Linked DNA regions of Homo sapiens: region 2 is linked to region 1. A link means that fine-mapping ties the variant in region 1 to the expression of a gene that starts in the linked region. Tissue or cell type: whole blood. Region 1 holds a variant in brackets; the other region holds the start of a gene. All regions are shown on one strand. Distances are from middle to middle.

Region 1 (2,681 bases):
TGTTCATCTCCCTGCCCCCATGAGTAGGAACATAACTAGAAAAACTAAGTGTGGATTAGGGAAAGTAAATCCTGACTAGATAGTGGATGCTGTTAAGGAATTTCTATTAATTTCTTTTAGGTGTGATAATGGCATTGCAGATATACTTTTTAAAGGATTCTTTTCTTTTAGACATAAATACATAAATATTTATGGGAAAAATTTATTGGCTTTGGGAATTAGCCTTAAAATAATCTGGGTGGGGGTATATATAGATGAAACAAGATTGGCCACCAGTTGACAATTGTTGAAGCTGGGTGATGGGTCTACATGGGTGTTCATTATATTATTTTTTCTACTTTTGTATGTATGTTCGAAAATTTTCATAATAAAATTTAAAAAAAAAAAAGAAAGAAAGAAACCAACATTGGGAGGTTGGCCTTAAGACAGTCTTAAGGTCTGTCTTTTCCCCAGAAGGACAGCCCCAAGATGCATACTCTGGCTATTGTGCAAAGTGAGTCTAGGCTGCCAGAGGGCCCTTGGCCTGCTTCTCCCTCCAGGGTCTCCCTCCAAGGGATGGGATATTCCAGAGATCCTCCTGATTGTTTACCATCTTTTTCATGAATATTCCACCCTTGCCTCTTCCAGGTCAACTCCTATTTGTTCTGCCTGTCTCAGGTACCACTTCCTCCAGGTAGTCTTCCAGGACTCCCTCAAGGTCAGGCACCTTGTCTGAGCGCTCCAATACCAGTCTGTACCAAAGCCCTTGGGACATGACTTTTGTATAATCATCTGTTTTCTTGGGCTGTCTCACTCACCAGCTTGTGGGACTTGGAGGGCAAAATGCAAATGCAGGGCCCAGCACACAGCAGGCCTTCAGCCTCTGTTTGTTGAGTGAATGTTAGCAGGGGATTGGGGAGGGTAGAGGTGGGACTTGGAAGAATTGACCCCAGCTTCTCTCCCTCCCTTTAAAGGGCCAGACCTGTCAGCCAGTGTAGCTCCGCCCTAATCATCCGGGAACTCTCCTTCAGCCCAGGTAGAAGACAAAGCCCCTGGGCAAGCTGTAGCCAACGGTTCAGTGAAACTCTTGTCCTTGTCTCAGGTTTCAGGAACCGGATCCCAACCGGTCAACTTGTGTGTCCTCTTTCCTTCCCAAGTGGGAAAGAAAATCTCCAGCCTGCCTCCCCCTCCCTTCTCCCTGGTGTTAGCAGGGGCTGGGGATTAGCGCCTGTACCCAGCCAGGGTCAGGGCAGCTGAGCTGGTGGGGGTGGAGGAAAGCTCTCCCTAGAGGTAAACTCGAGAAGCAAACCCGAAGCAACCTACTAATAGCGGCTGCTGGGCCTGAGCCCTCCTGACCTTCCACTCCCACTGCCTGCACAGCCTCAGCAGCCCCCTCCCCCATCGGTTCTAGTTCACAGCTCAGTGTCCATGGTATCTCTACGGGGCCGGGAAGGCCCGAGGCCGGCGGCCTAACCCTCAGAATGCCCTTTGCAGAGGGTTGGGACCTATCAGGAGTGCACTGAGCAGCACGGCTCAATGCTTAAGGAGATTAACCCCAACTGGTACACACCCAAAATAGCCCTGGAGGCTAGGGTGAAGAGG[G/A]CAGAAGAGGTGACGGGGGCCTGTTGACCCAGGGAGGCAAAAGCAGGCACCGGAGAGGGTTAGACTGTTAAAATCTCGCCCTGAAATTTGAAACTGCCTCCATCCAGAGTTTGAAAAAGCAACTGCTTGTTTCTTAAACTAGGTGGTACAATCCACAGGTGTTTGTTTTAAATATTGTTATTATACGTTTTCTTCTGTATGTATATAATATTTAAAGAATTTTGAGGGCAGGTGTGATGGCTAATACCTGTAATCTCAGCACTTTGGGAGGCTGAGACAGGAGGATCACTTGAGTTCAGGAGCTCGAGACTAGCCTGGGCAACATAGCAAGACCCCATCTCTAAAAAATTAAAAATTAAATTAAAAAAAAAGAATTTTACCAGCCTGGCCAACATGGGGAAACCCCATCTCTACTAATAATACAAAAAAAAAAATGGCCAGGCACGGTGGCTCACACCTGTAATCCCAGCACTTTGGGAGGCCAAGGCGGGTGGATCACCTGAGGCTGGGAGTTCAAGACCAGCCTGACCAACATGGAGAAACCCCTTCTCTATTAAAATACAAAATTAGCCAGGCATAGCGGCACATGTCTGTAATCCCAGCTACTAGGGAGGCTGAGGCAGGAGGATTGCTTGAACCCGGGAGGCGGAGGTTACGGTGCGCCGAGATCGTGCCATTGCACTCCAGCCTGGGCAACAAGAGCAGAATTCCGTCTCAAAAAAAAAAAAAAAAATGCTGGGCGTGGTGGTGCATGCCTGTAGTCCAGCTACTTGGGAGGCTGAGGCAGGAGAATCACTTGACCCGGGAGGCGGAGGTTGCAGTGAGCTGAGATCGAGCCACTGCTCTCCAGCCTGGCTGACAGAGCAAGACTCCATCTCAAAAAAAAAAAAAAAAGACTTTGAGCAAGTGAGGCATTAGTGCCTGCTCCCACCCTCAGTGCTGCCCTCTGGGTGCCTGCCTTCTCCTTACTGGGACAGTAGGTATAAGAGCTTGGTTAGGCCGGGTGCCGTGGTTCATGCCTGTAATCCCAGTGCTTGGGGAGGCCGAGGCGGGTGGATCACGAGATCAAGAGATCGAGACCAGCCTGGCCAACATGGTAA
Region 2 (2,681 bases), 53 kb after region 1:
CAGGGGGGCCATGGCATGCTGAGATTTGGGGTTCCTTGTGGGGCTCTGCCCAGTCCCTGTGAAGGAGATCTTAGAGGACCTCCACTTCCCAGAAGGCTATGCTGCCTGGCTGGCTAGTGTGAAGCATACGGGGATTTGCAGTGCGCCCCCAACCATTGCTTTTATATCTACAACTTAAATGATTAGACATACAGCATAACACTGAAAGGAGCCTTAGAAATAATCTAGAGCCATTTTTTCCAAACCCCGCTTCAATCAGAAGTCTCTATATCTATTTTATATATGATATATTAAAAAAAAGTTTGACAACCACTAATTTGGCAAGCAATGACCCATAGAAGGCAAGTGTCTTCTCCAAGATCACACAGCTAGTAAGAAGTGGACCTGGGAATCAAACCCAAGTCTCCTGCCTTTGTGCCAGAGCTTCTTCCACAAAGCTACACTGTCGTCCGGGTGTTAACCTTGAACCCTCCCTCCCCATGACCTGGCAGGACCAAAGGGAGGGCTCCAGAAAGAACCTGGAAACCCCGGGCCCAGTCAAAGCCTATGAAGGTAACTAACATGCCTTTTCTGGAACTCCCAGGCACCAGCACCTAAGCACCTAGCTCTGCCGCCAGGCTTGAGTCCTGGTGACTCTATTCAGCTAAGAATGTGGAGGTCGACAACGGAGGAGGCAGGAGTCCGGGAGGGAGGAAGAGGAGGCCTCTGGAGAAAAGGATAGAGGAGGTGGTGAGGGTGAGGAGGCAGGAACCCACCTGAAGGCCAGGCAGTGCTTCTGCTGCCTCTCGGTGATAAGCAAGGTCAGGTCCCTGCAGCAGTACCGATGGTAGCAGGTCCCGCAGCAGAAGGTGAAGAACTCGCAGTTAAACCCCGGATGCCAGGAGCCATTCCGGTCCAGGTACCACAGGCAGTCCTCGCCGGCCAGCACTGCGGGCAGGGATTGGGGGTGCCCAGTGGCCACCAGGCCAGTTCATCCCCAGCCGCGCTCGGCCCCACTCCCCCGGCGGTCCCCAGCCTGACGGCTCCCGAACACTGAGGGTTGCCCCTTGTCTCCACCCTGAGGGTCTCAGCCCCAGAGCCCCCGAGGCCTCTGCCTGAAGCTGACCCTGCACCCCGGGATCAGCCTCCCATGGCCCAGCATCCTGGAGCTCCCTCTTCCCGCTTCTTGAGGACCCAGCAACACCCAAGGCTCCCGTGGCAGCCGGAGGGTCTCGGAGAAGCCCCGAGCCCAAGCCCCTCGGATCGGTCCCTCCCCTTCCTCCGCCCCCATCCCACTCCTGCCGCATCTCTCCCCATCCCCTTACCCAGGGGAGCCCCCAGCACCAACAGAGCGATTGCGGTGAGCGGCGCGGCCCGGCGGAGCCCCGCGGGTGGCATGGTGGGGGCTGGGCGCGGCCGGGGTCGGGCCTCCCAGAGAAGGGACCGCAGGACCAAGCCGGCCAGCTGGAGCTGCGGCGGGGCCCAGCCCGCGGCCAGGCTCGGGCTCCTCTTCCGCCTCCTCTGGGGGTGGGACTAAGCGCCCCGCCCGCGCTAACCCAGCCGGCGCGGCTCCGCGCAGCGCCCAGGAGTCCACCCACCAGCGACGCCCACCTAGCCTCTGGAGCTGGGTGCCCCTCACCCAGCAGAGCACTGCCCTGCTCCCCCTGTCCCCGGCTCCGCGGTGGTTCCTCCCATCCGAGCCACCATGGGCACTGCGGGCAGTTGGGCACTGCGGCCAGGGAAGCCTGGCTGTGTCCTGGACCCGCCCCCGGCCTGGGCCCAATCACTATGCTGGACTCCAGAAGCCCTGATCCTGGTGCCACCTCCGAATGCCCAGACACATGGGCCAACCCTGGAGGAGCAGGGCTGGACCTTCACTTGTGGGGGACCTCCTCTGCCGCGTCCAGCCTGGGACATCCTGTCGGGGGCGGAGAGGGAAAGAGGCTGGATGTCACCCCGCCCCCATTCCCAGAACACAAGCACTCATTGAGAGGCATTCAGAGTGGCTTTGTCCCCAGCGGTGCCCACAGGCCTGAACCCTGCCAGCTGCACTGGCTCCCTACGATGGACCCTTCCCCCTTCAAGTGGACAGAGCTGGCATGCACCAGCCCATGGCCTCACTAGCAGGGAAGGCAGGCTGCTGGGGCCACCTGGGGCCCATCCAGTTAAACACTCTTCACAGTGAAAGCCCTTCACAGAGCAAGCCTGTACTGCAATAGCCACCGGAGCATAGGGAGGGCAACAGTTAATTTCAGGTGGGCAACAGTTAATTCCAGGTGGAGACAGTGTTTTAGGATGGGAGAGGTCAGTCTTCACAGGTTTATACTGAGTGCCAGTGACTATGCCCCATGCTACATGAGGTACCCTCCGAGGAACTGCAAATTAAGCCAGGGAGATCATCAAAAGCCTACCTTAATCCCCTGCCATGTACACCCTTTCACACACTTCTGGGCTTCCACATCTACCTCACTGGAATCTTTCCACAACTCCATGAACTAAGCAAGGTTCATCAGTGTTATCAATCGCATTTCACAGACTGAGAAACTAGGACTCATGGAGGTTAAAGAACTTGTTCAAGGTAATACAGCCAGTAAATGGTAGAGGCATCAGGAAGACCCAAATCTAAATCAGGGTTGATCCCCAGCCGCAACAGCAGACAGTGTAGACAGTGAGTATTTCTTGTGTTCTGGGGTGAGAGAATC

What was found. PIP is the estimated chance that this variant, and not a neighbour inherited with it, causes the effect.
Region 2: it holds the start of SHISA4, and the variant in region 1 is fine-mapped to the expression of SHISA4 in whole blood (TOPMed, PIP above 0.99).

What each region holds. Positions count from the first base shown.
Region 1 is chr1:201,940,382-201,943,062 of GRCh38, reverse strand. The region is part of intron 1 of LMOD1 (leiomodin 1); the gene reads left to right. Among named protein-coding and RNA genes, the nearest start is that of LMOD1, 4.8 kb to the left of the region's middle. RefSeq lists an enhancer at 663-1,612. The variant G/A (reference allele first, on the strand shown) is at 1,582.
Region 2 is chr1:201,887,691-201,890,371 of GRCh38, reverse strand. It overlaps SHISA4 (shisa family member 4), which reads right to left and starts at 1,474. Exons shown (of 5, transcript NM_198149.3): 1 at 1,305-1,474; 2 at 756-927. The coding sequence starts at 1,377. RefSeq lists enhancers at 1,337-1,631, 1,472-1,981.